4 separate regions of the Homo sapiens genome follow, and all the other regions are linked to region 3. Evidence: fine-mapped expression QTL. A gene starts in region 3. Each other region holds a variant in brackets. All regions are shown on one strand. Distances are between the middles of the regions. Region 1 overlaps MAST1 (microtubule associated serine/threonine kinase 1). Region 2 overlaps ZNF878 (zinc finger protein 878). Region 3 holds the start of DNASE2 (deoxyribonuclease 2, lysosomal). Region 4 overlaps MAST1 (microtubule associated serine/threonine kinase 1).

Evidence for each region. PIP is the estimated chance that this variant, and not a neighbour inherited with it, causes the effect.
Region 1: its variant is the best candidate, but not a certain one, in a credible set for the expression of DNASE2 in monocytes (CEDAR, PIP 0.77).
Region 2: its variant is the best candidate, but not a certain one, in a credible set for the expression of DNASE2 in whole blood (TOPMed, PIP 0.87).
Region 4: its variant is the best candidate, but not a certain one, in a credible set for the expression of DNASE2 in monocytes (TOPMed, PIP 0.63).

Annotation. Positions count from the first base shown.
Region 1 is chr19:12,858,617-12,861,300 of GRCh38, reverse strand. MAST1 (microtubule associated serine/threonine kinase 1) reads right to left here. Exons shown (of 26, transcript NM_014975.3): 12 at 2,562-2,684. Among named protein-coding and RNA genes, the nearest start is that of MIR6794, 7.7 kb to the right of the region's middle. The variant TG/G (reference allele first, on the strand shown) is at 1,474.
Region 2 is chr19:12,048,057-12,050,740 of GRCh38, reverse strand. The region is part of intron 1 of ZNF878 (zinc finger protein 878); the gene reads left to right. Among named protein-coding and RNA genes, the nearest start is that of ZNF878, 3.6 kb to the left of the region's middle. The variant CCTG/G (reference allele first, on the strand shown) is at 1,488.
Region 3 is chr19:12,880,037-12,882,720 of GRCh38, reverse strand. DNASE2 (deoxyribonuclease 2, lysosomal) reads left to right here and starts at 1,272. Exons shown (of 6, transcript NM_001375.3): 1 at 1,272-1,431; 2 at 1,569-1,749; 3 at 1,841-1,919. The coding sequence starts at 1,346. RefSeq lists cis regulatory regions at 1-150, 890-1,450 and enhancers at 1,345-1,454, 1,114-1,741.
Region 4 is chr19:12,848,771-12,851,454 of GRCh38, reverse strand. All of the region lies in intron 7 of MAST1 (microtubule associated serine/threonine kinase 1), which reads right to left. Among named protein-coding and RNA genes, the nearest start is that of MIR6794, 2.1 kb to the left of the region's middle. The variant C/A (reference allele first, on the strand shown) is at 1,322.

The sequences.
Region 1 (2,684 bases), 21 kb after region 3:
CCTGAGGTCAGGAGTTCAAGACCAGCCTGGCCAACCTGGTGAAACCCCTGTCTCTACTAAAAATACAAAAATCAGCTGGGCATGGTGGAGGCGCGCCTTTAGTCCCAGCTACTCAGGAGGCTGAGGCATGAGAATCCTTGAGCCTGGGAGATGGAGGTTGCTGTGCACCAAGATTGCGCCACGGCACTCCAGCCTGGGTGAAAGAGCGAGACTCCATAAATAAATAAATAAATAAATGTCCTTATCTCTTTGGCTTGCTCTGCTTGTTTATTGTCTGTCTATACAGACCAGAATGGAATCTCCATGGCGGGGAGATGTCTGTGCCTGGGTCTCCTCTGTGTCACTGGCACCTAGCACAGCATGTGACACGAGGGAGATGATGAGGAGGTGTTCGTTGAGTGACTGGATGGTTGACTGGAAGGCTTGGAGGAGGCACAGCTGAGGCCCCAGGGATCATGTATGTGTCATAATAGCCACAGCATGTGTGGTTTTGGACAATAGATGGATTAACATTTGGGTGAATACATGCACGGATGGATTAAAAACAATATATGGGCCGCAAGCTATGGCTCACGCCTGTAATCCCAGCACTTTGGGAGGCTGAGGTGGGAGGATCACCTGAGGTCAGGAGTTCGAGACCAGCCTGGCCAACATGGTGAAAACCCTATTTCTACTAAAAATACAAAAAATTAGCCAGGTGTGGTGGCACACACCTGTAATCCCAGCTACTCGGGAGGCTCAGGCAGGAGAATCACTTGAACCTGGAAGGTGGAGGTTACAGTGAGCCGAGATAGCGCCACTGCATTCGAGCCTGGTGACAGAGCAAGACTCTGTCTCAAAAAAAAAAAAAAAAAGAAAGAAAGAAAAAGGAAAAATAGGTGTATAAGCCGGGTGTGGTGGTTCACGCCTGTAATCACAGCACTTTGGGAGGCCGAGGTGGGCGGATCATGAGGTCAAGAGATCGAGACCATCCTGGCCAACACGGTGAAACCCCGTCTCTACTAAAAATACAAAAAAAATTAGTCGGGCATGGTGGCGGGCACCTGTAATCCCAGCTACTCAGGAGGCTGAGGCAGGAGAATGGTGTGAACCTAGGAGGTGGAGCTTGCAGTGAGCTGAGATTGCGCCACTGCACTCCAGCCTGGGAGACAGAGCAAGACGCCGTCCCCCCCAAAAAAAAGAAAAATAGGTGTATAATGGTAAACAGACATACGGATGGATAAACAGATGGACAACCACAAAGACAAATTGCGGGATGTGAGGGATGGATGGAAAGGTGGATTAATAAACAGGTATATGGGATGGGCTCGGTGGCTCGTGCCTGTAATCCCAGGACTTTGGAAGGCTGAGGCAGGACGGTTGCTTGAGCCCAGGAGTTGGAGACTAACTTGGGCAATACAGGGAGACTGCATAAAAAACAAAACAAACGAACAAAAAAAAACAAAAAACAAAAAACTTTTTTTTTTTTTTTTT[TG/G]CGGGACAGGGTCTTGCTCAGTTGCCAGGGCTGGAGTGCAATGGCATGATCTCAGCCTAGCCTGGAGTGCAGCAGCACGATCTCGGCTTACTGCAACCTCTGCTTCCTGTGTTTAAACAATCCTCCCACTTCAGCCACGTGAGTAGCTGGGATTATAGGAGTGTGCCATCTGGCTAATTTTTGTATTTTTGGTAGAGTCAGGGTTTCACCATGTTGGCCAGGCTGGTCTTGAACCCCTGACCTTGTGATCTCCCCACCTTGGCCTCCCAAAAATTAGCCGAGTGTGGTGGTCCGCACCTATAATCCCAGGTATTTGGGAGGCTGAGGTGGGAGAATTGATTGAGCCCAGGCATTTGAGGCTGCAGTGAGCTGTGATCGCACCACTACATTCCAGCCTGAGCAACAGAGTGAGATCTTGTCTCAAAAATAAATAAATAAAATAAAATAGGCCTGGCACAGTGGCTCATGCCTGTAATCCCAGCACTTTGGGAGGCCCAGGCAGGCAGATCACTTAAGGTCAGGAGTTCAAGACTAGCCTGGCAAACATGGCGAAATCCTGTCTCTGCTAAAAATAGAAAAATTACCCATGAATGGTGGCACAGGCCCATAATCCCAGCTACTCGGGAGGCTGAGGCATAAGAATCGCTTGAGCCTGGGAGTCGGAGGTTGCAGTGAACCGAGATTGCACCACTGCACTGCAGCCTGGGTGACAGAGCAAGACTCTGTCTCAAAAAATAAATAAATGAATAAATGAATAAATAAATAAATAAATAAAAACAGGTTCATGGATGTATGGATGGAAAAACAGATGGATTAGCACATCAGTAGATAGAAGGATAGATGGATGGATAATGGGTCAGACTGAATGTTTTTATGCTGAATGAAATGAAAAACAAATAAACCAATAGATGACTGAATAAATATATAGGTAGAATGGATGGACAAATCAATGACTGGAGAAATAAATAGATGGATAAACATACAGGCCGACTAATCAATATGGAGACTGCGGCTCAGGCAGGCCACCCCGCAGCCCTGACCAGTGAGCACGGCCCCATCTTCCCTGCAGCCCCGCAGGCAGCCACACCTTCCACATATTCCATGACCATGCAGAGGTGGCGCCGAGTCTCAAAGGAGCAGAACATGCCGACCACAAACGGGTTCTCGGCGAAGGTGAGGATATCGCGCTCCACAAAGGCCTGCTGGATCT
Region 2 (2,684 bases), 830 kb after region 3:
AGTCTTTGTGTAAGAAAAGTAAGAGGGAAGTTAGTCTATAATGAAATCAATCCTTAAGAGGGAAGGGGTCTTTCCTGACTTGCTTGTCATTTAAAATATTTTACAAAACAATATAGGTAAGAAAGAAAGCTAATCTGTAATCAGGGAATGGAAGGTTCCCTGGCTGGCTCTGTTACCGCTGCCTGTGAGGTGTCTCAACCCCAGAATGGCATTCCTTTAAACCTCAAGATAATTTAGAGTTCCAGCAGCTTAAATTTTTGAATCACCTATTTTCACATTCTGTACAGGTGAAACTTTTGGTTATGTAATCAGAGATTAATTGACCTATTGTGCCTGGTTAAGCCTAAATTTCATTTCCCTATAAATTAGTCATTAGTGATATTGTTTCCTCAGGCCACAGATTAGAAATTTATGTGAATTGGATTTGAATTTGGCTTCAGTATGCTTGTGAAGGGTCTTAGTGTTCTATAGCCAGTTCAGTTTAATTGCTTCTTATTTATTTATTTATTTACTTTTGAGACGGAGTCTCTTTCTGTCGCCCAGGCTGGAGTGCACTGGCATAATCTTGGCTCACTGCAAACTCCACCTCCCGGGTTCAATCGATTCTCCTGCTTCAGCCTCCCAAGTAGCTGGGACTACAGGTGCATGCCACCATACCTGGCTAATTTTTGTATTTTTAGTAGAGACAGGGTTTCACCATGTTGGCCAGGCTGGTCTCAAACTCCTGATCTCAGGTGATCTGCCTGCTTTGGCCTCCCACAGTGCTGGGATTACAGGCATGAGCCACCGCACCCGGCCAAAATTGGATGTTTTAAAATTGGATGCCATGTCAGTAAGAATATACTTGGGAACACCACCCAGGAAAATGAATAGTCCTTGGGCAGTTCTGGTGTGTTTCTTTGATGTCATCTAACTATGGCACACAAAGGTGGTCAAAATTTTGATTCTTTTGGTTATTCTTTTTTTTTTTGAGATGGAGTTTCGCTCTTGTTGCCCAAGCTGGAGTACAATGGCGTGAGTTCAGCTCACTGCAACCTCCACCTCCCAGGTTCAAGTGATTCTCCTGCCTCAGCCTCCCGAGTAGCTGGGATTACAGGCATGCGCCACCACACCTGGCTAATTTTTGTATTTTTAGTAGAGATGGGGTTTCACTAGGTTGGCCAAGCTGGTCTTGAACTCCTGACCTCATGCTCCACCCGCCTTGGCTTCCCAAAGTGTTGGGATTACAGGTGTGAGCCACTGTGCCCGGCCTGTTATTCTTTTTTTTTTTTTTTTTTTTTGAGAGGGAGTCTCGCTCTGTCGCTCAGGCTGGAGTGCAGTGACACCATCTCTGCTCACTACAACTTCTATCTCCTGGGTCCAAGCGATTCTCCTTCCTCAGCCTCCCAAGTAGCTGGGATTACAGGCACCTGCCACCACACCTGGCTAATTTTTGTATTTTTAGTAGAGATGGGGTTTCACCACTTTGGCTGAGCTGGTCTTGAACT[CCTG/G]ACCTCAGGTGATCCACCTCCCAAAGTGCTGGAATTACAGACATGAGCCACCGCACCCAGCCTTCTTTTTGTTATTCTTTGTAGCTGTATTATCTTTTTTTTTTTTTTTTTGAGACGGAGCTGCCTCTCGCCCAGGCTGGAGTGCAGTGGCGTGATCTCGGCTCACTGCAACATCTGCCTCCTGGGTTCAAGCGATTCTCCTGCCTTAGCTTCCCGAGTAGCTGGGACTACAGGTGCATACCACCACACCCAGCTAATTTTTATATTTTTAGTAGAGATGGAGTTTCACTATATTGGCCAGGCTGGTCTCAAACTCCTGACTTTGTGATCTGCCCACCTCAGTTTCCCAAAGTGCTGAGGCACCGCGCCCAGCCTTTCTTTCTTTTCTTTTCTTTTTCTTTTCTTTTTTTTTTTTTTTGAGACAGAGTCTTGCTCTGTTGCCCAAGCTGGAGTGCAATGCACGATCTTGGCTCATTGTAATCTCTACCTCCTAGGTTCAAGTGATTCTGCTGCCTCGGCCCCCCAAGTAGCTGGGATTACAAGCGCCTGCCACCATGCCCAGCTGATATTCGTATTTTTAGTAGAGACGTGGTTTCACCTGGTTGGCCAGGCTGGTCTCGAACTCCTGAGCTCAGGTGATCCATCTGTGCCTGCCTCCTAAAGTGCTGGGATTACAGGTGTGAGCCACTGTGCCAGGCCTGCCATATTTTTTCTTTTTTTTTTTTCTTTTTTTGAGATGGAGTCTCGTTCAGTCGCCCAGGCTGGAGTGCAGTGGCTCGATCTTGGCTCACTGCAAGCTCCGCCTCCCGGGTTCATGCCATTCTCCTACCTCAGCCTCCCGAGTAGCTGGGACTATAGGCGCCCGCCACCAAGACCGGCTAGTTTTATGTATTTTTAGTAGAGATGCGGTTTCACGGTGTTAGCCAGGATGGTCTCAATCTCCTGACCTCGTGATCCACCCGCCTCGGCCTCCCAAAGTGCTGGGATTACAGGCATGAGCCACCGCGCCCAGCCCAGGCCTGCCATATTTTCTTTTATCACAAAGTAGAATTTTGGCTGTTTGGAGTTTCCAGTAACTTAGTATTGCAATTAATGTACCTTTCATGTTATACCAAAAGGGTTTGTTTCTGACTTTTTGCCTCATTCTGTTGCAAACATGCCACTGTGTTGAGTCATGGGTTGCCCAGTTTACTT
Region 3 (2,684 bases):
TCCAGAGCAGCCTGGGCAACATAGTGAGACCCTCATCTCTGCAATGAACAATTATCTGGGTGTGGTGGCACAGGCCTGTAGTACCAGCTACCTGGGAAGATCTCTTGAGCCCAGTAGGTTGAGGCTGCAGTGAACTGTGATGGAGTCACTGCATTCTAGCCTGGGTGAGAAACCATTATCCTGTCTCAAAACGACAAAAAACAAACATACAGTCACCTCTTTGCTAGCTCAGGGGATCCTGGAGAAAACGTGCAGAATGAAAAAGGAGAGTCTGGGTGGCGTGGATTACATGCCTGTAATCCCAGCACTTTGGGAGGCAAGACAGGTGGATCCCTTGAGCTCAGGAGTTCAGCCTGAGCCACATGGTGAAACCGTGTTTCAAAAAAAAAACTACAAAAATTAGCTGGGCATAGTGGCATGTGCCCGTGATCCCAGCTACTCGGGAGGCTGAGGTGAGAGGATCACTTGAGCTGGGGAGGCAGAGGTTGCAGTGAGCCAAGATTGCGCCACTGCACTCCGGCCTGGGCAACAGAGCGAGATATTGTCCGGGAAAAAAAAAAAAAAAAAAGGAAGGAAAAAAAAAAAGAAAGAAAAAGGGGAAGATACACTGGAACACAAATGCTTCTTAAGGGGCGCAGTGGCTCACTTCTGCAATCTTGGCACTTTCGGGGGCCGAGGCTGGTGGATCACGAGGTCAGGAGTTCGAGACCAGCCTAGTCAACATGGAAAAACCCCGTCTCTACTAAAACTACAAAAATTAGCCGGGCGTGGTGTCGGGCGCCTGTAATCCCAGCTACTCGGGAGGCTGAGGCAGGATAATCGCTTTAATCAGGAAGGCGGAGGTTGCAGTGAACCGAGATCGTGCCATTGCACTCCAGCCTGGGCGACAAGAGTGAAACTCCGTCTCAAAAAAAAAAAAAAAAAAAAAAAAAAAAAAAGAGGAAGAACAAAGGTCCCAAGAGTTGGACCCAGGTTGTAGGGCTGGAATAAAAAATAAAATACAAACTTGTGCCTGATCCAGAAACCCGGGCGGGAGTTGGGTCAGACAGAAGAGCGTGGGCTGGGATTAGCTACCACGAAAAGGAACGGTGGCCAGGCTCCAGGAGACGCTGGAGCGCCGGGCCCGTCGTGGGCGTGGTCTGGGCAGACTCAGCGTTGCCTTTTGCCTCTCCAAAACGCAGCATCGCGTCTCGGGGGAGGAGTCTGTACCCTCGTGATGTCCCCGCCCCGGTTCCCAGGCAAGTTTAGGGAAGTGAAAGGCGCCAGGTGCCAGTCCTGGCCTCTGATGTAACCCAGCGCCCCGCAGTCCCGACACAGATTCCTGGATCTCAGCCCCATAGCAGCTATGATCCCGCTGCTGCTGGCAGCGCTGCTGTGCGTCCCCGCCGGGGCCCTGACCTGCTACGGGGACTCCGGGCAGCCTGTAGACTGGTGAGTGCGCAGCGGGGGGCCTACCATCGCCCCGGGGTCCGGCTGCGGTCACTCAACCGGGATGGCTACCTCCTCGGGGAACCCTGGGGTGCCTTCTCTTCCCTCTCTCCTATTTCTGTGCATTCTCCGACCTCCAGGTTCGTGGTCTACAAGCTGCCAGCTCTTAGAGGGTCCGGGGAGGCGGCGCAGAGAGGGCTGCAGTACAAGTATCTGGACGAGAGCTCCGGAGGCTGGCGGGACGGCAGGGCACTCATCAACAGCCCGGAGGGGGCCGTGGGCCGAAGCCTGCAGCCGCTGTACCGGAGCAACACCAGCCAGGTGAAGGGGGCCCCGGGCCAACTAGGGGCGAAACTCTAGGGCTGCCCTGCCTGGGAGGAATTTCACGTTGCCTCCGTTTATCCGCCCGCAGCTCGCCTTCCTGCTCTACAATGACCAACCGCCTCAACCCAGCAAGGCTCAGGACTCTTCCATGCGTGGGCACACGAAGGGTGAGGCCTGGATTGGGGGCTGGGGAGAGACTCGGGTCCCATTTTTCCAAGGTAACCCCTGACGTGCATGGGGTGGTCGGGGAGATCTGCACTGTCAGACCCTGGGCATCTATTCCCCCCAACTTTTTTTTTTCTTTGTTTTTGAGACGGTGGGAGTTCGCTCTGTCACCCAAGCTGGAGTGCAGTGGCACAATCTTGGCTCACTGCAATCTCTGCCTCTGGGGTTGAAGCAATTCTCCTGTCTCAGCCTCCCAAGTAGCTGGTATTAAAGGCGCACCATCACACCAGGCTAATTTTCATATTTTTAGTACAGACGAGGTTTCACCATGTTGGCCAGGCTGGTCTCGAACTCCTGGTTTCTACCTCAAGTGATCTACCCGCCTTGGCCTCCCAAAGTGCTGGGATTACAGGAATGAGCCACCCTGCCCAGCCGAGTTCCTATGCATTTTTCCAAGCTAACCCCTGACCTCCATAGTGGGGTGGGAGATCTCCCCTGTCAGACCTTGGGCATCTATTTCCCCTATTTTATTTTCTTTTAGACAAGGTCTCACCCAGTCACCTAGGCTGGAGTGCAGTATCACAGCTCACTGCAGCCTTGACCTCCCAGGGCTCAGGTGATCCTCCTACCTCAGCCTCCCAAGTACTGGGCCTGCCGGTACCCCCCACCACGCCTGGCTTTTTTTTTTTTTTTTTTTTTTTGCGGCACTCTCTCTCCATCACCCAGGCTGGAGTTCGGTGGTGCAATCTCAGCTCACTGCAATCTCC
Region 4 (2,684 bases), 31 kb after region 3:
ACCCTGTCTCTACAAATAATAAAATTAGCCAGGTGTGGTAGTGTGTGCCTGTAGTCCTAGCTACCTGGGAGGCTGAAGTGGGAGAATTACTTGAGCCCAGGGGGCTAAGGCTGCAGTGAGCTGATTATACCACTGCACTCCTGCCTGGGTGACAGAGAGAGAGACCCTGTCTCAAAAAAAAAAAAAGAAAAAAAGAAAAGAAAAAGAGGCCGGGCACAGTGGCTCACGCCTGTAATCCCAGCATTTTGGGAGGCAGAGGAGGGTGAATTACTTGAGGTCAGGGGTTTGAGACCAGCCTGCCCAACATGGCAAAACCCCATCTCTACTGGAAGTACAAAAATTAGCTGGGTATAGTGCCACACACTTGTAATGCCAGCTACTTGGGAGGCTGAGGCAAGAGAATCGCTTGAACCAGGGAGGTGGAGGTTGCAGTGAGCCGAGATCACATCACTACACTCCAGCCTGGGTAGCAGAGTGAGACTGTCTCAAAAAAAAAAAAAAAGAAAAGAAAAAACTAATATCTTATTGCAATACTTGAAAAGCCTAAAATTAATGCCAAAAATCTATCATAAGCCAAAATATCAAAATTTAAGCCAGATGTGGTGGTACATGCCTATAATCCCAGCTACTCAGGAGGCTGAGGCAGGAGGATTGCTTGAGCCCAGGAGTTCAAGACCACCCTGGGCAACATAGAGAGTCCTCCATCTCAAATGAAAAAGAAAAAGAAAAAGAAAATTAAATAAAGACAGAATCCAACAGGCTGTGCCTAGCCATATTGTAACTTGAGCCAAAAAAAAGTATGCACCAACCTATATGTGTTTTAATGTGTCTTTGAAAATGTCTAATGGTTTCAATGAAAATAGTATTATTGATGAGTTTGCTTTCATTAAAACCAGGACAGTAAAATTATAACACATTCTGGCTTGGTTATAAATAAAATATGTAAACTTAAAATAATGTTGGGTTTTCATTTATCTACTTTTCAAGTTTTTCAAAAATTAATTTAATGTTCTGGGGGAAGAAATAATTACTTGCTTTACCCTGGTCCTGGTCTCAGCCCTAATACCTATTGGGTCTTTGTTTGTTTGACTTGTTTTACTGTAGAGACAGGGTCTCGCTATGTTACCCAGGCTGGTCTGCAACTCCTGGGCTCCAGAAAGCCTCCTGTCTCAGCTCCCCAAAGTGCTGGGATTACAGGGGTTAGCTTCTAACGCCTATTGTTTATCTTCTGTCTCTTCCTGCTATTAATAGAATGTCAGCTCTCCAAAGACAAGAATTTTTGTTTTATTTCCAGTTGATTTCCCAGCTTTTAGGCTAGTGC[C/A]AGGCCCATAGTAGGTGCTTAATAAATATTGGTGGGGGCCAGGCATGGTGGCTCACACCTGTAATCCCAGCACTTTGGGAGGCAGAGGCAGGTGGATCACCTAAGGTCAGGAGTTAGAGACCAGCCTGGCCAACATGGTGAAACCCTGCCTCGACTAAAAATACAAAAATTAGCCAGGCATGGTGGTGGGTGCCTGTGATCCCAGCTACTCGGGAGGCTGAGGCAGGAGAATGGCTTGAACCTGAGAGGTGGAGGTTGCAGTGAGCCAAAATCGCACCACTGCACTCCAGCCCAGTGGGATAGAGTGAGACTCTGTCTCCAAAAAAAATAAAATAAATAAATAAATAAATATTGGTGGAATTAATGAATGATCAAGTGATCCTCCTGCCTCAGCCTCTCAAGTAGCTGGGACAGCAGGTGTGTGCCACTACACCTAGCTAATTATTTTTATTTTTATTTTTATTTTTTTTGAGACAGAATCTCACTCTGTTGCCCAGGCTGGAGTGCAGTGGCGCAACCTCGGCTCACTGCAACCACTGCCTCCCGGATTCAAGCGATTCTCCTGCTTCAGCCTCCTGAGTAGCTGGGATTACAGGCACGTGCCACCAAGCCCGGCTAACTTTTTTGTATTTTTAGTAAAGACAGAGTTTCACCTTATTGGCCAGGCTGGTTTCAAACTCCTGACCTCGTGATCTGCTCGCCTCAGCCTCCCAAAGTGCTGGGATTAAAGGCGTGAGCAACCTCGCCTGGCTTAAATTTTTTAAATTGTTTTAGAGATGGGGTCCTGCTATGTTGCCCAAGCTGGTCTCAAGCTCCTGACCTCAAGCAATCCTCCCATCTCAGCCTCCTAAGTAGCTAGCTGGGACTACAGGTGCATGCCACTGCAAAGGGACATTCAAGCATCAATTTACCCAACATTTATTGAGTACCTACTGTGTGCTGGGTATTGTTCCAAACAGCAGGGACACAGCAGTGGACAGAACAGACAACTCCACCCCCCCACCCTCACCAACTATGGGGCTGACATTGGAGAAGGATAGACATGAAATAAAATAAGCAAAAATACACAGTATGATGGATGGTGCTGAGTGTCAAGGAGAAACTGAGGAGAAAGTGGGTGATAAATGTGAGTAGAGTTTAATATTTTATTTTATTTCATTTATTTATTTATTTTTGAGACAGAGTTTCACTCTTGTTGCTCAGACTGGAGTGCAATGGTGTGATCTCGGCTCACCGCAACCTCCGACTCCCAGGTTCAAGCGATTCTCCCGCCTCTGCCTCCCAAGTAGTTGGGATTACAGGCGCCCACCACCACGCCCAGCTAATTTTTGTATTTTTAGTAGAGACGGGGTTTCGCCATGTT